3 linked regions of the Homo sapiens genome follow. The protein of the gene in region 3 binds, or shares a complex with, the protein of the main gene of each other region. Links are inferred from orthologs where the notes say so. Each region holds a gene or a part of one and is shown on either strand. Other genes may lie near its edges.

What was found. Proteins that work in one complex are often made in the same cells at the same time.
Region 1: the proteins of ARRB1 (region 3) and CLTC are in contact, whole or in part, in a crystal structure (PDB 3GC3), measured with the Bos taurus proteins. The link is inferred for Homo sapiens from one-to-one orthologs. Residues at the interface, in NP_776668.1 of Bos taurus: His30, Ile31, Asp32, Leu33, Val34, Glu35, Pro36, Pro96, Thr98, Arg99, Tyr173, Pro175, Lys355, Thr374, Asn375, Leu376, Ile377, Glu378, Leu379, Asp380; in NP_776448.1 of Bos taurus: His12, Leu13, Gln14, Gln16, Asn17, Leu18, Gly19, Val50, Asn56, Asp57, Pro58, Ser59, Asn60, Ile62, Arg63, Arg64, Pro65, Ile66, Ser67, Ala68, Lys78, Ile80, Leu82, Lys83, Ala84, Thr87, Gln89, Phe91, Asn92, Ile93.
Region 2: the proteins of ARRB1 (region 3) and AP2B1 are in contact, whole or in part, in a crystal structure (PDB 2IV8), measured with the Homo sapiens proteins. Residues at the interface, in NP_004032.2 of Homo sapiens: Asp384, Asp385, Val387, Phe388, Glu389, Phe391, Ala392, Arg393, Arg395, Leu396; in NP_001273.1 of Homo sapiens: Arg834, Gln835, Phe837, Leu838, Trp841, Lys842, Asn846, Glu849, Ile876, Ala877, Arg879, Val881, Glu882, Gln884, Tyr888, Glu902, Arg904.

Annotation. Positions count from the first base shown.
Region 1 is NC_000017.11:59,615,470-59,622,915, forward strand, and holds the start of CLTC (clathrin heavy chain 1), read left to right. Parts: upstream 1-4,425; 5' UTR 4,426-4,662; coding exon 4,663-4,704; intron 4,705-7,446. UniProt on the Homo sapiens protein: Clathrin is the major protein of the polyhedral coat of coated pits and vesicles. Two different adapter protein complexes link the clathrin lattice either to the plasma membrane or to the trans-Golgi network.
Region 2 is NC_000017.11:35,625,303-35,632,342, reverse strand, and holds part of AP2B1 (AP-2 complex subunit beta), read right to left. Parts: intron 5,723-7,040; coding exon 5,501-5,722; intron 4,959-5,500; coding exon 4,838-4,958; intron 4,713-4,837; coding exon 4,617-4,712; intron 1-4,616. UniProt on the Homo sapiens protein: Component of the adaptor protein complex 2 (AP-2). Adaptor protein complexes function in protein transport via transport vesicles in different membrane traffic pathways.
Region 3 is NC_000011.10:75,259,622-75,264,701, reverse strand, and holds the end of ARRB1 (beta-arrestin-1), read left to right. Parts: 3' UTR 1-4,580; downstream 4,581-5,080. UniProt on the Homo sapiens protein: Functions in regulating agonist-mediated G-protein coupled receptor (GPCR) signaling by mediating both receptor desensitization and resensitization processes.

The DNA.
Region 1 (7,446 bases), on a different chromosome or scaffold from region 3:
AAATGAAGACATATTTATCTGATCCTCTGATATGAAATCCCCTATTAATAAACACCTTTCTTAAAAGTGCTATATAAAAGTATGCTTATAATAGGAATGTTTCCTTTAATTTGTCTAGAATTGAAAGGGAAATAGGCAGGGGGGTTCAAAAAACAAAAGGGAAATTGAAGGCATCCAGAAACTTATTTTATTTTTGAGACCGAGTCTCGCTCTGTCACCCAGGCTGGAGTGCAATGGTGTGATCTCGGCTCACTGCAACCTCCACCTCCCAAGTTCAAGCGATTCTCCTGCCTCAGCCTCCCAAGTAGCTGGGATGACAGGCACCTGCCACGGTGCCTGGCTAATTTTTGTATATTTAGTAGAGGTGGGATTTCACCATGTTGGCCAGGCTGGTCTCAAACTCCTGACCTCAGGTAATCCGCCCGCCTCGGCCTCCCAAAGTGCTGGGATTACAGGCTGAGCCACCATGTCCTGCCTAAACCAACTTTTGTGAAATGGCTTTTTAAGGTAATGTCATGAACCACTTCATTCCTCTGCCAGGGTCTTATTTAACCCTTCAAAAACATGGGTGGGCCCTATATAATGTGACTTCATTCTACATTGGATCCCCACAAAGCTAGTCTTGGCTTTTCACTTGGAACATGCCCAATGCTGATACAAAGTAAAGATTCACTATAGATCTTATTGCTATCCATCGTACGTTATAAAACTTGTCTAAATATTTAAAGGTTTAAAACAAGCCTGCGCAGTGGATGTCAAGAGTAAAGTACGTTTCATAGTAAAATTAAAATGCCATTAAAATTTTGTTCTTGTGGGGCTGGGTGTGGTGGCTCATGCCTGTAATCCCAGCACTTGAGGAGGCTGAGGCAGGCAGATCACCTGAGGTCAGGAGTTCAAGACCAGCCTACCCAACATGGTGAAACCCCTGTCTCTACTAAAAATACAAAAATAAGCCAGGCATGGTGGCTGGTGCCTGTAATCCCAGCTCCTCGGGAGGCTGAGGCAGGAGAATTGCCTGAACCCAGGAGGCGGAGGTTGTGGTGGGCCGAGATCACACCATTGCAGTCTGGCCTGGGCGACAAGAGCAAGACTCCGTCTCAAAAAAAAAAAATTGTTCTTGCTTTGTAAATGCTGCTTTCTTTTCTTCATTTTGGAGCGGGGAGCCTTGCCGATAGTCAGTGACTTGTACATTTGTTTACTGGCATTTGATAGGCTGCTCCTTATCTTGCATGAAAAAATAAAGACCTAGCCAGTCTAATCCTGCTGGGATTCATATCAGTGGCCCCAGGGGGTTGAGATGCTTCAAAGCTACTGTTTAAATGGCAAAACCAAGTATCTTACTTGGATAATACTAAAGTATGTCCTTTATGGCTTTATTGGAATCTGAATTGTAAACATTTGGTACAGTGGATTAAAGTTCTGCTTTAAAATTAATTTCTGAGTATGTGAGATATGCCTTTTCTTTGTGACTTTTGCAGTGCAGTGAATTCAGGCTGTTTTTAAAAGGTCAAGTTTTTAAAAGGCAGGGGCATTAGTGCTAGGGCTGCTTGAAGATGAACAGCTAATGGAGAAATCCTACAGTGAAAGGGGTTGTTTTTTTTTTTGTTTTTTGTTTGTGTTTTGAGGTGTCATTCTATTGAGTGTTTATATATATATATATATATATATATATATATATGTATATATCTCCATCCTAATTGTTGGCATAACATTAAAATTAGTGACACAACACAGGTTTCTTGTATAGGTTTTCAGAAACTAGCAGTCCTCAAAATAACAGACCAAGCAATGTAGTTTTTGCTAATGGCACTTGCTGTGACTCATGATAGTCTACTGTTGATGAGCATTCCAACTAAAATAGCTTTCACTTCACCATTGATTAACATGGCTACCTTGCTAAAACATTTTCTGAAACCAAAAGCTAGAGTGATCATTCATAGCATTGTCTTATTAAAAGACTATGTCATACTGTATCGTAGAAAAAGCCATTCTGGGTAGTAGGATTTGCTTCCTGGTCTATTAGGTTATCTGTTCTCCCTTCTAACTTGAGGTAATGTCTGAAAACAGTGCCATTCAGGTATTGCTTAGGTAACTAAACCAGTGAAACCAGTGAAACTGCCTTTATACTGTTACCAAGAACAGCAGACTCCCATTAAAAAAAAAAAAAAACTCTTATTACCCTACTCAAATTATTCATCTTTAAAAAGGCATAGGGTTTTTTTTTAATGTTTATCATCTTGACTTTTTTTTTCTCTTGAAAATTTTTGGATTAATTTGAAGATCATTTCAAAATGACCCAGGATATCACGATCTATTTTTCCTCTTCCTAAATTATTTCTCAAAACAGTGTAATTTCTATGTGTGATGACGTAGCAGTCACTAACAACCTCAGCGCACTTTTTGGTTAGATATTCCACTCCAAATAGCTAAAATCAACTGCTTTTGGGATTCTAAATGTACTTAAAGTTACAGGGTCTGTATGAAAATGCCAGACACTAATTAAATTTTGGTGGCCCATTCATGATACGGCTCTTTTATCTCCGGATTCTGAGATTGAAAAGGTGACTTGATCAAGCTATTGAATTACTGTAATAAAACAATTACTCCCTTAGAATTTTAATTTAGAATTTGTCTACTTCCAAAAAGGGTTTAAAGCAGTTATTACTAGACTGGCATTAGGTTATTTCAAATGTTGCGGAACAGAGGATCTTCGTGTATTTAGCTTAACAATACAAAAAGAAATTTTGCAAGCATAAATATTCACTCTTACAACATGGTGGCAAGGCTTTTCTTTGCAGAACAATCTTTGCCCTCTTACCTGCCAGACTCTTCTCTCATGCTCAGTATGTGAGACAGTTAAGTAAAGGGAAAAACACTAAAAGCAACTAAAATGATTGGCAAACTTCTCACTGTAACCTAAACTGCTTAGCATACAAAACTATCGTCTACCCAATAGGGTTTTATGTCCTTTAACTGAAAAGGACACTAAAAATAATTATTGTGGACTTGAGCTTTTCTCTTTCGGCGGGGCGGGGGGTGGGGGGGGAGAATCACCTCTCTTACAAAGATAAAAGGCACAGAACTAACGTCTTTCATCCTTTATTGTATTGGTGCGATTATGAAATATTATTATGGCTTATACTTTAGCAAGAAAGTACCAGAAAGGTTATTATTAATCGACAATGAATGCCGTTGATACCTTCATGCTCTTTGAAGACAGGATGCTCCGGCTTTGAAGCGCTACATTTCTACATTGCTAACCTACAGGAACCTATGTTGAGGTGGTCCCACCGAAATACACGGCTAATAGTTCATCTCTTTCCTCCAGGAACCTTCAGGTTTTTTTTTGTTTGTTTTTTTTTTGAGACGGAGTCTCGCTCTGTCGCCCAGGTTGGAGTGCAGTGGCGCGATGGAACCTTCGGGTTTTACTAAGCATCCTTACCCTAATTATCTAAATCTTTGAGACGTAAATTATTTGATGTGGCTAAAAATCCTCCTGCTAGAATTTAGGTCCAATCCTTTAATGTTCGGATACTCAAATTCTTTAACGAAACTGATCACTGAGCTAGGCCGACACAAGTCCGCCAAAATGTCCGCAGAAACGTTAAGAAAAGCTGTCATAAGGCCAGCTTGAAAGACATCATAAAAGGCCTTCGCTGTCCTTTGAGTTAATTATCTAACACCCGAAGAGAGTGCCAGTTCTAGTTAGAATCCGCGCGTCAGGTTCTCCAACAGTCAGAAGGGCTTGTGTGAGGGCAGGGAAGATTTTAAACCCCGTTTCAGGCCCCCTCCCTAGGCTGTAGGAAACCACCCACTCTGAAGCCCGGCGGGGGAGGAGTGCTGCAGCCAGCTGCCGAGGGAGCGCTCTGCGGCGAGGCCGTTTCCCTGAGTCACGGAGAGGGCGGGAGGCTGCGCCCGTCTGCCCCCGCCACGTCCTCCTGTGAGGGGCTCAGTCGAAACAGGCAGCGGTCGCAGGGAAACGAAGCGGCACCCGTCATGCCTCAAGGTGGCCCAAAAGCCTCTTCACTCCCAGGAGACGCCGCATTTCCTTAAAACGAGCTCTCCATTTCTGGCAGCAATCAGCCGACCCTTCCCCATCAGTATCACGTGCACCTGGAAGTACGTGGGTGGGACCTAAAGCGCCCACGGAAGTGACGTCGGTCGCCCCGAGTCGCATGATGTGGCAAAATGAAAAAAAAAAAGTGGGGGGAGAAAGAGAAGACTGGCGAAAGTGATGAGTCTAAAAAAGTAGTCCCTCCGGTTCCTCTGTTTCCCCCCATGTGGCGTCAGGAAGCGAGGCACCGGGCGCACTGCGCCCCGAATTCCTGCGCCCGCCGCGCGCGGCGCTCCGTGGAGGGGTACATAAGGCGGAGGGGGTGAGGCGACTGGGCGGAGTTCTGTCGCCGGGATCCTTCCGCTGGGCTCAGCCGTTTCCGGAGTCTGCGCTGCGCCCGGTTCCGCCATTGCGGCTCTCCTGGCCCCTGGAGCCTCCGCCCCCGACCCGAGCTCTTTCGTCTGCCTGCCAGTTTCCTGCGTCCCCGGAGAGGATCCTGCTGAGCCCAGCCTCCCCCCTCCCCTTCTCCTCCTCTCCCTTGGAGAGCCCGGGCAGCCACTGCCCCGCAGCCCCAGTGACAGGAGGAGACCATAACCCCCGACAGCGCCATGGCCCAGATTCTGCCAATTCGTTTTCAGGAGCATCTCCAGGTGCGGCCGGGCCCGGGCTGGTGAGGGCTGTGGAGAAGGTGGTAGGAAGGATGGAAGACGCTGGAGTCTGGGCCCGAGCAGTATCGGAGCTGGAGGGGCGGGGGGGTTGTCGGTGATTGGGGTAGGTGGAGGAGGGGGCACTATCTTGGAAAGCTTAAAATATTAAATGATGTGGGGCTTGGATGGAAAGGACAGGAGTTGGGGTGCAAAGAGCTGCAAGGACCAGGCCTGGATCCAAAGGCCTCTCGATCTTGCTTCCTGGATGGCCAGAACTGCGCGTACAAACTCTCTCCCCATTTTATTCATTTCATTCATTTGGGTAGGGGAGTGGGAGGGGGATTCTCCCTTGTTTCTACCAGAGCAAGGATTCTTATCCCCTGGGCCAGTGCGGGGCTGTCACCTTCCATTGCTCTCCTCTTTCCCTCATCGTGTCTGCACCCAGGAGTTGTGGGGCGGGTGGGTTGGGGAGGAGCAACCTTTTTTTTCCCTCCCTCTGCGGCTCTCAACTGAGAAAGGCACCTTCTCCGGTGGTGGGGGTTGGGGGTGGTGGTGAGGCGGTGGCTTTTCTCTTGCCTTCCCTGAGGCAGTAGGGACAGAAGGTCACTGAAAGAACGGAACGAGGGTAGAATGGGAGAACGCATTTCTTAGAGCTATGTCAATCTCAGAGTGTGTGCGGTCAAACTCCCTAAGGAAACTCGCCTCCCCTTCCCCCTTTTTTTATTTCTCTGGGGATGTTGTGGCTCTTAACCCCTCTTTGGTTCTGGAAGGTAGGAAAGAGTGATACAGAGGTTATCTTTTAGTCTTCTCGAGTAGTAGCAGGTAGTTTTGAATATCTTCTTCAGGATCGCATGGAATTGAACAGAGCCCTGGGGACAGCACAGCTGCTCTGAGACCTGCAGGGCTATTTGGTCTGTGACTGGCTTCCCTTTAGTAAGTTCTAGAGTTCTTCCCCATGGTTCCTTATCCTGGAGGCAACATATTGTTATCTGGCAACATGCCAGTGGCGGGCCTAGGCAGGTGACCATTGGAAGGCTTCACTGAATTAAACCTCTTCAGAGCTTTTGATTTTCCTGTGTCACCAATCCTGTTTTTTACTGTAGCTTAAATAATTTATTCCTATTAATTTGCTTTCTTCCCAAATATCCCCTTAAAGAAACCTGCCTCAGCTCAGTCGTCTGAAGGGCTAATTCCATAATGACAGGGAATGCAGTGGTTTGACATGACACTGATATCAGTGACCTATTAGACACTTTACCATTGAAGACCATTTTTATTTACATTTCCCCATTGGCATAGCATACATAAAGGATTCTTGTTAATAAAAGGTTTTAACATTCAGGCTATAAGTAACATAATTTCATATTTCTTTGCAAGTATTACCATGTTTGCACTAGCAAGGACTTATTTTCCTTTAAGGCTTGAAATGTAAAGAATAATAAATTTTTACCCATAAAATGAGTTAAATAATGCACTTTCCTCAGTCATCTATAATTTTCAAATAACTCATCTGAAGTAATGGAATATACCTTGGCAATAAAAACACTTTTACAGAGGGTTAAAAATGTTAAATAACAAAATGGACATTTTTTTTTGATCAATCCAAGTTTAGTTGCTGTGGTTGCTTTTGTTAAAGTGGGGTGGCAAATGAATGTGGAGAGTTGAGGGGTGCTGTTCTTAAGTGTGAGGGGAAAACGCGGGCTTATTTTCATATTAAACTGCATCTGAAATATCTTTCTGCAGACAAATGTTTATAAACCACACAGAGAATCAAGTACAGCTGCTCTTTATTTTCCACGGCAGATGTGTAGCTCACTACTAAATCTTGTGGTGGTTGGAGTAATAGCTTTTCATTTCTTTTAAAGAGGAGACAAGAATTGTTAAATGATCCCAAAGATTCGAACCCAACCTTGTCACTTATTAAAGACAAATTTAATACATGTCTGTTTTGTAACTGGATCAAAGTTTCTGCAGATGCTTGAATGAAGCCATTTTCTTCTCAAATAATTTGAAGATTTTGAATATAAAGCGATTTGCAAATTGAAAAATTCAGTCCTCTGTGTTTTGGATTGCTATGTCATGCCTAAACTTAAGCTTGCTTAGCTAATATGACTGTGCTCCAGTTGATTAATTGTGGAGCCCAAATAACTACAGCCTCTTTCATGATAATATATCTCCTAACTTCATATCATTATCTCCTCCCTTTTTAAAAATTAATAAGCATTTTGTTTTTTTGAGGAGACAGGGTTTTTGCTGGAGGTCAGTGGCACCATCACAGCTCACTGCAGCCTTGACCTACTGGGCTCAAGCCATCCTCCCACCTCAGCATCCTGAGTAGCTGGGACTACAGCCATGAGCCACCACACCTGGCTAATTTTTGTATTTTTTGTAGAGATGGAGTTTCATGTTGCCCAGGCTAGTCTCGAATGCCTGGGCTCAAGCAATCCTTTGCCTTGACCTCCCAAAGTGCTGGGATAATAGGTGTGAACCACCGAGCCCAACTAATAAGGATTATTTTAATTGGCATCTTTGGTCTTTGACCTCTGAGCTTCTACCAGTTTGCTAAGTAGCAGAAAACTTTCTGAAACACGTAGGATAAAAACTGGAAACAAGAAATGGGGAACTTAAGTGTGAGTGTAGAGTTACCTTGTGAAACTGTAAATGAACTTATTTTTATACCCTTTAACTACATTGTCCAACTGAAGGATCTCTTGTCATCAAAGCTTGGACCTACAGCAAATGAAT
Region 2 (7,040 bases), on a different chromosome or scaffold from region 3:
GCCAACATGGTGAAACCCTGTTTCTACTAAAAATACAAAAATTAGCCGGGCATGGTGGTGCATGTCTGTAATCCCAGCTACTCTGGAGGCTGAGGCAGGAGAATCACTTGAACCCAGGAGGCAGAGGTTGCAGTGAGCTGAGATTGCGCCATTTGCACTCCAGCCTGGGCGACAAGTCAAGACTCCATTTCCCCACCACCCCCCAAAAAACAAATAAAACAAAATCATTGCCATAGAAGTAAAAAAAAAAAAAATAGTGAATTTTATATAACTTTAGGTGAAGCACAATTTTCTAAGTGTGCCACTGAGGAAAAACACTGACTGAGAAAAGCTGATACAAAAATCTAAACTTCTGTGCATCAAGAAAGCAGAAGAAATCTAAAGGACAACAAACTAGGAAAATAAATGCTAACTAAAAGAAGGGTTAACATCTCAATTACAAAAGACTTTAAAACAACAATGTGGAAAAGATAACATATTGGAAAAAGGTGCAGAGGACATGAGTGAGCAATTCCCAAATGGCTAATAAGCATAACTGTTATGAAAAAATGTTCACTTCAACTAGAGTTCAAAGATTTAGTTGCAAGGATACTCCTTATACCACCATTTGGAAAAAGAGTAGAAACAACTTTAAGGTCCTATAATAAGGGATAAAGTTACAAATTCAGTAAGTTATCAAGTAATCACGTTATGTCTATAAACCAGAAACTAAAGATGACATAAATTTTTCTTTATAATGTGGATCAATGTCCATGATATTACTAGTAAGAAAAAAAAAAGTAGAGGATAAAACAAAGTAAATAAATAGCATTTGTGGAATGATTTCATTTTTATAAAAAAATACATCTTTGTATAGAACACTATATAAACAATGATATAAAATGATGTCTACCAGATTATGTCCACTGCATATCTGAGAGAGTGAAACAGAAGATGGGGAAAGCGGGGTACCCCATTTTTTGTTTAACTTGTTCTATAATTATATATAGTAAACAAATATGGTTTTCCTAATAGGAAAAATATGTTTTTTGTCTTTAAGAAATGACACACAAACCAATATTTTATTCTAATATATAAAAATCAGAAATAGTAAACAGAAAATAACCAGAAGACCAGGAAGTGAAGAACTCCTGGTCTTAACCTAGTGCCTCAACCTCTCTCCTTTTTAAAACTGAAAAGGACCAGGAGTTTGTTTACTCCTGAAAGAAATAGGCAAAAGTTATTGAACAAAAAAATAGCACCATAGGATTGCTTTTTCAGTGCTATTTATTTGCTCAACAGCTTGTTGCTTCCCAAAGCTATACAGAAAGTTCATTACAATTCTTATGCTGCTGATTCCTGTCCCATGGATGAGTTAGTGCAAACAGGCAATCATTGCCTCTCCTGGTCCAATTAACTGTTTGGCTTGGCAACTCTGTCAAACTGAAAACCTTCATGGCTGAAACAGTTACAGGAAAAGTTCTAAGGTAAATCTGGGTAATCTGAAATGACAGCACTAGATAAGACAGGATTCCTGAAGGGTGACCTTAAGTTTCCTGGGAAAGTTCATTCCTCACATCCTGTCATACTCCCATCAAAGCACGCTTAGTCAAAGGAAGAAGTGAAAGCCATCAGAAGTCTTTTCCAGAAGATTATGGAGAACCTTTCCATTAGTCACAATAGATGACTAACAGCCTTGAGGAATCTAGATGCTTTGAGAACACTTTCTAGTAATTCCAGGGCTAGAAAGTCTCTGAACTTCAGAATAAGATATAATTTTTGTATTACTGTTTACAGCTTTGTCAGAGAGGTAGGTCATAAGACAATGGCAGTCTTGTGGAAAAGATGGCTATGTACACTAGTGAAGAGAACAAAACCACCTTACTCTTATGCTACCAAAATCTCTCTGAAAATTATCTACATTAATACTAAGTAGACGGCTAGTAAGATATGTTAACGTAAAAAGAAAAGAAAAACAAGTTGTGACGTGTGGTGACAGTGGTAATAAAAACAATGTTAACATATCAAGATCCAACAAAAAGACTTTAACATTTCTCCAATGAAGAGAAACATTAAATATCTGAATCAAGTGAGCTAGCAGAACCAGGAATAGAACCCAGGACTAGCTAACTTCTTGCTGTTAACAGCCTTTCTATTAAATTATTTATCAACAGAAACTACATGAAGCAGCACTAAACTGAAAAAAAACAAGGAAGGCCAATTAGGAACAGGTATTTCATAGAAGATTCTCTGACACACATCTGCCTCCTTTTGTTCCGGTAAAGTACTGGTCATACTGTACAAATTGTTTTCGTATTCCTGAGAAATCATATGGTCCAATCCTCTGACTCTAGGCAGAACTGCATATAATCAAGTAGCAAGAACAAACATGGGGCTCTGAACCCATAAAAACAGTGAACAGAAGCCACTGTTAATTTCAACAAATTTCTGAATGAGGACAAACAAATGGAGGACTGCTGACTGATGAAGCAGGGCAATGTAAATTACAGCCCATAATACTTACCGGAAGGCTGCAGCCAAGCTAGAAACCAATCTGCCCTCTAAGACCAGATAGGCTCTTCAAGAGGTCTTCCATGTAAAGATAAACCCCCTTCCCTAAAGCAGAAACCTGATAGTCGACAGCCTTGCCTATGTATACAGAAGTCCTAATCAACTTTTCTGTTACCTCTTTCTTAAACAGAAACGAGCTGCACTTTACTGTATGCATGGTATACATCTCAATTAAAAAATTATATGCATAGATATGCAATCATCACCAAAAAATATCCGATAATTAAATTCAAAGTGCAGAAACAAAAAAACGAATCATTCATATCCTCAGAGATTCAAGAAGCTATTGCAACCACAAAAAGAGCAATGCAAGGAAAAATATACCAATAACAAGAAATAGGGAGGCTGTATGGAATGATGTGCAGAAGCCAGAAAAGCAATCAGTCAGAGTAGAAAAAACAAGAAGACAGAGGACTGCAAAAGAGAAGGGTCTAAGACAAAAGAAAGTTTACAGATTTGATATTATGCTTAAGGAACAGGAATAATATAGGGGCATGATAAAGACACACATGCAAGAAAAAAAGAGGCAATTAAAGAAACTCCAGGGCCAGGTGTGGTAACTCACACCTATAATCTCAACACTTTGGGAGGCTGAGGCAGGCGGATCACTTGAGGCTAGGAGTTCAAGACCAGCCCAGCCAACATGGCGAACCTCGTCTCTACTAAAAATACAAAAATTAGCTAGGTGTGGTAGCGTATGCCTGTAATCCCAGCTACTCAGGAGGCTGAGGCATAAGAGTCGCTTGAGCCCGGGAGGCAGAGGTTGCAGTGAGCCGAGATCATACCACTGCACTCCAGCCTGGGCAACAGAGACTCTGTCTCAAAAATCAAAACAAAACAAAAAACCTCCAGAAAAAAAAAAGATGCTATAAGAAAGAAAATGTAATCATTTGCATTACATTGGCCCTAAATATTTACACAGTCGTAATATGCATAAATTTTGCAAGCCAACAGTTGATAGAATAAGAAACAAAGGCATATTATTTCAATCTACCATGATAATGGATATAGGAACAAAAACCTTCATTATGTAACTACACTGGAAAACAGGAGACGGAAGTGGGAATGGTGGGTGTATGAAGTAAACTTCTTATAGCAGATAGTTAACAGAAAAAGTCTATGATAGGTAAATTAATAAATAATAGCATAAGAATATTATTGTTGTTCTTTTTTTGAGACAGCGTCTTGCTCTGTCACCCAGAGTGAAAAGGTTTCAGGTTGGAGTGCAGTGGCACAATAACAGCTTACTACAGTCTCAGCCTCCCAGACTCAAGCAATCTTCCTGCCTCAGCCTTCCAAGTAGCTGGGACTACAGGTGTGTGCCACCACACCCAGCTAACTTAAAAAAGTTTTTGTAGAAACAGAGCCTTACTATGTTGCCTAGGGTGGTCTCAAACTGCTGGGCTCAAGCAGTCCTCTCACCTTGGCCTCCCAAAGTGCTGGGATTACAGGTGTGAGCCACTGCACCCAGCCAAGAATATTATTTAGAGATATGGCAGCCCAGTCATGTCTCCAAATCCATGGGAGATTGGTTCCTGGGCCCCTGTGGATACCAAAATCCATGGATGCTTAAGTGCCTTACATAAAATGGTATAGTATTTGCATTTATACACATTCTCTTGTATACTTTAAACCATCTCTAGATTATTTATAATACCTAATGCAATGTAAATACTATGTAAATAATTGTTATATTTTTAAGGAATATAGACAAAAAAAGGTCTGTACATGTTCAGTACAGACAAAACCATCCTTTTTCTTTTCCCCTGAATATTTTTGATCCGCAGTTAGCTGAATCCACGGATGTGGAACTCATGGATATGGAGGACCTATTTTAATCAAAAGAATAACTAAAAGCAAAATCAGAGTTAAAAATATTCCCTCTGAGAAGAAAGTCTAGGTAGGGAAGGGAGGAACCAGAGACAGCTGCTTTCCATTAAAAATTCTTTAACATTGAAACTGTGTGCTTTATTATTTTGATAAACTTAAAAATTATTTTAAAGAAAAAAGTGAAGAGAACTCTCAGAATCCCCAATACATGATCCTAACTACCATCAGACACTTGCCTCCACCTTGATGGCACACCGTCCAATGGCCCGCACAGCTTTTCGAACAAAGTCAACATCCACCTCTGTAGCATATTCTTTCAGTTCTGCCAGAACCTGTTAAACCCAGGAAGTGGTTAATCATTAAGGATTCTCAAATAGCAATCTCACAGCCTAGCTTCTTTAAAGGCCAGACCTTAAGAGCTAAATCATCATCAACTTGAGTCTGCATAAAGTCTGACCTGAGCAATGTTGGCTTGAGATGCCAAACGAATCATGATGTCCAACTTCTCTAGTTTAACATAGATGGGATCATTGTACTTCACAAAGAAGACTTTGATTTCCTGCTTCAAGATTTCAGGCCTAGGGTACACAGAAACAGAAGAAAGGAAGGTGAAGGCATATACTGATATACCCTTCTGAGACTGTATTAATACCTAATCTGTGCCTCTCTGCTCTCCTCTCGCTCCACTCAGGCAAAAAAAAAAAAAAAAAAAAAAAAGCATAAACTTCCTCTATACGCCTCTATTCTTATCAGTTCCACTTGGCAGATTATTTTTATCCTTTTTAAGCATCAGGGCACATGTTGCCATGAAGAACTGCTAGAACAACAATCTGGCTCTAAACTACAGCCTGAACCATATCAACCAGGCACTAGACAGTATATCAGAAAGAGACCCTTCAGAAAACAAACTGGATTGTGGAGCAACGCATGGCATTTATTATAGAAACACTGTAATATCAACTGTTAGCCTCCTGGTGCTAGGCAAGCAAGTTTTTCTGCCATATAACATTTTCATTTCCATATATTAAAAAGAGATTAACACTAGCCTAATTAACATTGACATTATTAAGCTTAATGCAAAATTACAAACACTTTAATCAACACTTCGCTATTTCCCAACCTTTTCTGGACAATTAAGTTGATGTTCCTCAGGGCGACATACTGCACTTCTGGCTCCCCAGACAGCAAAGTGACAAGTGGAGGGGCTAACTTCTTCAGCAGCATATTGTAGTAGTCAGAATCCTTAGGTAACAATTCTAGAAACTTCATTAGGACTTTTACCGCTGAAAGCACCACTGCTGAGTTGGCATGGGATAGCCGGGGAGTTACCCGCTCACAGATGCTGAGGGTGGAGAATGAAAATTAATATCATGAATTATAATTTATTTGCTGAATTCATTCTATAAGGTAATATGTCAGAGTCTAATGGCCAAGTATCAAAAAATTAAAGAATTAGTTAGAAAAGTCAAAGCTCCATGCTTAGGTAAAATTGGGATCCAACAATGCAGAAGCCTCATTCTCAGCAAACTACAGGCAGAGCAGGGACATAAGAAGACTTCAGGAAACCAGTAATAAGGGATGTTCAAACTGGAAAGAACCTAGCAATACCCAAGACACTTGAGCTCACACCATTTACCTTCTTGTTTTATAGTCCTCTTTGTCTCCCCATATTATGTTAAGGCTCCCTGCCTCTCAGCCCATTTCTACTCAACCTATAGGAAGTCAAATTAAGCATTCTGAGAGTTATTTCATAGGAAGAGACAGCAAACGCAGTTGTGGCTGAAGATTTCATTGTAAGATACAGCAGGAGGCAGGCTGGTAGGGAAAACAATCCAACCTCCTCTCTTAAGGATAATGAGAATAAGGGACTCTCTGAAAAGGGTTTGTTTTTTAAATAGCAGGACACCACTACTATATTTTCCTGTCTCCCCCCTCTCCTAGCCCCTGCCACCTACACTTACATGCCTCATAAAATGGTTGATATTTAATTATCTGTTGAGGGTTCTTTAGAAATTAATCCAATTTTGGTAGCTTGGGCAACACAAGTAGCTAACTTACTGTATTAAAGAAAGAAGATAAATAGGCTGTACTTCTCTCTTCCTCCTATTCCTGACTTCCTTTGGGTCTTTATATGAATGCCACCTTCTCAGTGAGGTCTTCCCTGGCCATCCTTTAAAAAGAAAATACAACCCCTCACCCCCAAATGCCCAGCATTTCTTAGATTTCTTCTCTACTTTACTTTCTTGTTAGTACTTATCACCATCTCACATATTACATATTACACTATCTATACATATTATATATTATATTATCTATACATATTATATATATTCCTACCCCCATCCTTCAGAATAAGTGATCCCAGAGGGCCATGACTTTGTTCACTGCTGTATCCTCAGAGCCTGGAACACTGCCTGGCACACAGTATGCACTTAATAAATATTTGCTAAGTGAGTGAATGAATGAATGTGATGTCAATGGCCAACAGAAGAAAATAAAATTCTCAGTAAAGTTATTTCCAGACTATATTTGTACTTTCAGTGATGGAAAGAAACTATCAGAGTGAGCTTTAGTTCAGTCCAGAGGGACAATTTCCCAGATAAGTGAAGATCACTTACATTCTAGTAGCTTGGAAATCAGCTTCAGCCAGACCAGTTCTT
Region 3 (5,080 bases):
TGAACATTAGAGCTCCTGGTCTGGTGGGTAGAGCCAGAGCTGCTGACTGGTCTCTCTGCCTCCAGAGGGGATTTATTGGACCTCAGAGGTGGCAGGGCCCTATGGAGCACCAACTGCCCTCAACCCCACCCTGTGCCCAAGACTGGGAAGGGATTGATGTCAGGCTGTGGCCATAGGTAGCATGAGTTGCCCAAGGAGGGACAGAGCATATCTTTGCTGAGGCTTGGCTGAGGGGCTTATGATAGGGCTTGCAGTACCTCACAGCCCCCTGTGGGCACAGACACCCTGAGGTTTACCCAGGCAAATATATTGATTAGCAGGACAAGGGCTCTCTCCTCAGTTTCTGCTCCCTTCCATCTCTCTCCCATACTTGTCTGAAAAGGGAGACAAAAAATCTTATACAAGTGGCATCTCAATCCTTTCCAGTCCAGCACCTCCTGGGGCAGGCAGTGTGACTTATTTCCTGTGGTGAAATCACCTGTTTCACAAGCCTGGCAGCGCGACTTCTGAGTCTCATGACCACTCAACCCAAGGGACCCCTCCCCAGACCAGAACCAAGTCAGCTGGGGGCTGTCGTACTACCCTGTCCAGTCTTGAGGGCCTAGTTGCAGGTCCCCCAGGCATCCAGCCCCTCCTAGAGCTTGCTGGGCAGGCTGCACCTCATCTGGGCAGGCGCAGAGCTGATGAAATGCTGGAGCAATGCATGGCAAACATATGCCCTCCAGTGTCTTCTGAAACCTTTGGGGCTGACACAAGATCCTTTAGTGTTTGGGATGACCTCTTTCCTGCAGACTTCTTCCCCTATCCCTAACTCATGCATGGAAAACGTTTGTCAGGCTGGTTTCCCGAGCCTCCTGCACCTCAACATCACGCTCACCCTTTTGGGTTTAGCCCAGTGTTATTTAGCAAATTTCTCCAGCTGCAGGGAAGGATCAGAGCACTATCTTTTTTTTTTTTTTTTCTCCTGGAGCCAGGACTGCACAAGGCAATGGCCAAATTTAGTTGAATTCAGCCTACCATCCTTTGCTGATGACTCAGCTCTATGCCAAGTACTGGAGCCACAGAGATGGGTCAGTCCCAGCCCCTGTCCTCAGGAAGCCCATGGTCAGGGAAACGTTGTAGGGATAAGTAATAGAGGGCAGTTGCCTTCAGGGCTCCTGGTGGCTGCTGGTCCCTATGGTGCCTTGATGTGAATTAGAAGACGGTGCCCTTTCCAGGTGGATTCAGACCTACACTAGAACGCACAGCTTTGGGAGTGACACACAGGTTGGATTTTAGCACCCCTTGCCCCTTGGCCAGAGGTGCCCTGCTGCACGGCCATACGCTGCAGCCTCGAGGGACACACAGGCCAAAGTGTTTCCTTCAGCCTCTTCCTGGAGAGGAAGCCGCAGGTCATGTTTCCAAGCTTCTGGTCAACTCCAGGCACCACCTCCCAGCCCCCAAACATGGCCGAGCCAGTGCTTCTCTGCAGGGCCCCTTTCCTTTCTGGAGTCAGCCTGCCCAGGTGATACCTTGAAGTGAAACTAGGGGTGGGGGAGCCTCACTAGGCCCCAGGCACCATCCCACAGTACTGGCGGTTTCTCTGCCAAGTGTTTGGGGCCTGCACTGGCCAAGCCATCCGTCACTGGGACTTTGCAGTGTGCCCTGTGGGTGGCGTGTGGACACCGGTCCGGGCAGGAAGGAAAAGCATGCCCCGGTGAAAACCCACCGAGCAGAGAGCCAGCGGGACCTCCTCAGCATTCCACCCAGGGGAAGAGTTCAGTCCCCATGAAGATAAGGACTGAGTTATTTGGCTGCACCTCTCCTCAGCCTCAAAGCTCAGACCTGCTAGAGTGGGTTCACCTGGCTGTTGGTTCTGTGGGAGAGTTCCTGACAAGCTGGTTCCTACATGGTGCAGTGAAAGGAACTCTGTCCTGGAAGTCCCCAATGCCGCCTCTCAGTCCTGCCTGTCACCAACCACCTGGGGGGCTTGGGCAAGCTACTCAACCTCTGGGGCTCAATTTCCCTAACTGTAAAATGGGATTGTAATCCCTTCCCTGCCTGACGCAGGAATTGTTATGAGGCCCAGATGAGATGAAAGTCAGCGGTCAGGGCTCTGTAAGTTGAAAATGGCTGGATGTGTGTGGCCCTGCCACTGCAGGGATGGCCCAAGGTCACACAGAAAGTTTGCTGCAGGAGGAGCCCTCCCCACCAGTCTTCATCGCTTGCCCTGCTTCTCACTTAGGCAGATGTCAACCAGAATGAGATACAGCCAATTTGGCTTTGATGACCCAGCTGAGAGGGAAATTTAGATACAATTCAGGAATATCATGCCCAAAAATAGTGGTCCCAGCAACCAGGACACAGAGGGAAGACCTGGATATTGTCAGTGATTGGTGGAGGGGGACATCTTGGACCCTCCTAGGCCTGGTGTCACATCTCCCATCTCTCAGACCCCACAGAGGCCAAGGGGCCTTGGCTCTGACCCAGGTTAAAGAGAGCCACCAGCCCCCAGGCTCAGGGAGCTGAAACCACCCATCCGCAGAAATCTAAGGGCAAGGAGAAATAGAAATTGTCTGTTCCTTCCCTTCAAAGTGTAAGGCCTCTTCCAGGAGCAACTGGAGCCACCACAGCTTCTCAGTGACATTGGGAGGGCTTCGGGCCCAGGAAAAACCCAAGCCTTTTGTCCTGAGAGCCGAGCCACAGCGGATGCAGTGGCGTCAGCATCCCAGAGCGGCAGCTTCTCTCCTGCCTGTCACTGGGGACTGGTTGCTCTCCACCCATCCAGGAGGAAGGGGTTAGGTCCCAGTCTTACACTCTTATAGGGTCTCATGGACATAGGCCTATGCCTGTTCTGATATCTATAATTTTTTAAACTCAAAAGGACCAAAACACTCCTGAACCCTCATCTATACGGCCTGCACTGGGCTTGGTGTTTCCTCCTGGCCCAGGCAGCTCCATCTCTTCTGCCATTCCTCCTGGACGAAAGTGGCAGGACCCCACCTCTACCACTTCCCCACAGGGTCACTGCACAGCGGCTTCAAAGACACGCCCTGTTGAAGGGGAAACATCCTCCCCCCATCACACTCCAACTCGTCACCCCAAAAGGGAAGTCAAAGCACAGGTCCGTGGGGCCTATGGTTTGTAGACACTGACACAGTGGTTTTCAAACCAGGTGCTGCGGAACCCCTGATATTCCACAGAGCTTTGTCAGGGGATGCTAAAGTGGGAAGATGGGAGTGGAGGCAAAGGATAGGTTTCCAGCCCTCCTCCCATTTCCGCCGCCACCAGAATAACTCTGCTTTTATCTGTCTTGCCTACTGAGATTTCATTTTCAAGCTTTCTTTGAAGAAGAACTTCAAACCACCATCTCGAGGTTTGATCTTAGACCAGCCAGCACAGGTTCTATTCTTGCTGTTCATGTTGGAATGGCTCCAGCGTTCCAGTACAAAGTGTCTTTGTGTTGGAACTTGGGTCACAGACCCAGGCACAAGCATTTATACACACACACACACACACACACACACACACACACACACACGTACATAGTTGATGGTTTTTCTAGCCAACCCACCCTGAAGCTCTGGCCAAGGTTTGATTTGGACAGGGACCTGGTGCTCAGTGGGGATGGGTCGTGACCCTGATATTGGCCCATGAAGCATGGGGAGCTCTGGAGCAAGGAAACAGGCTCAATCCCCCACTGAGGACTTGTGTCTGCACCCCTATCTGGCACCCCACTTTCCTGGCCTAGGCCCAAGGGACACAGCAGGAGAAGCAGTGTGATAGGAGAGAGGCTAGGGTTAAATTCATCTTTACACAGCGCCGGATGGATGGAAATCTTGGCTCACATAAAAGACAGACTCAGGGAGGATTTTATGACAAAAGTCCCTCCTTTGAGGGCAGGATTCCCCCAGGAATCCTGGACACTTTAGTGAGAACTGGACCAGCCCTTGGCACAAAACCCTGCCTGCCCTGTCCCCCACTCCCACCCCCCAGGGAATTCTAGGTGAAAATGTGAAGCTCAGGGCACAGCAAGCGCATGACACGGGTGTATTACATTCGGTCCGAGTGTGTCCTTAGTTTCCCTGTGTGCAAAATGGGGCTAGTCCAGGCTCTTCCCACCTCACTGGGACAATTGCAAGGGTCATAGGAGAGGTGGGTATGATAGGTGGTCATATGAGGTGGTGAGTATGAGAGGTGGGTGCCTCACAAACTCGGGGTATGGTCCTGACCTGCATGGCAGATGAGCAGAGCACTTGGGAACGAGCATAGGAAGTGCCATCTTCCCGGGCATCTCTGCTCAGTGTTAAGGTCTAGCCACAGACACTGTGGGACCTGCCTCTTCCTATGGAATGGGGGCCTGCATGGGTTGTGTCCTGGGGCAGGAGTGAGGGATGGCTGGGAAGAATCTCCAGGTCTGTGGCCCTTGTGTTGAGTGATTATTTTGTGACACTCTCATTCCTGGACCACCTGCCAGGTTTATCTGTTATACCTGTGGCATTCTTATTATGTCAGACAAGTTATTATAGTTCATTCAACTCTAACAAATGAACAAAAGAACAATAAATAGGAGGCCATTAAAGGTCTTTTGTGGCAGAGGATGCTGGCTGTGCTTTCATTTCTGTCTCATAAGCCCATGGCAGGTCAAAGACCAAGAAATGCCTCCCTGCTGCCCTGGACTGGCAGATGGGGCTCATGACTGGGTGAGGTGCTCTCTTCCCTTGTCTGTGGCCCCAGCTCCAGCCTGGTCCTTGTACCAACTTCTGGAGACTGCCAAAAACTTTTCTCCTGTCCCTCTTCTGCCACTTTTCAGCCTTATGGCCTTGGGAAGCTGGCATACCTCTCATCCCTCTCAGATACCACAGGATTTTGTGACCCATGGTTTGCTCCTGGGGTGAAGCCATCCTATCTTCTATCTTTGGCACCACTGACCACATCAGTGGGAGTCCTCACCCCAGCCCCAGCCCTGGTTCTTGTTCACTTCTTATCTCCTGCCCTGCTGGGTCTTCCTGAAGTCACTTCAGTTTTCAAAGACTTATGTGCCACCTGGTCTAACAGAACATATGGGAGGAGTAAGGATATCAGTGAGGAAGAGTCGATG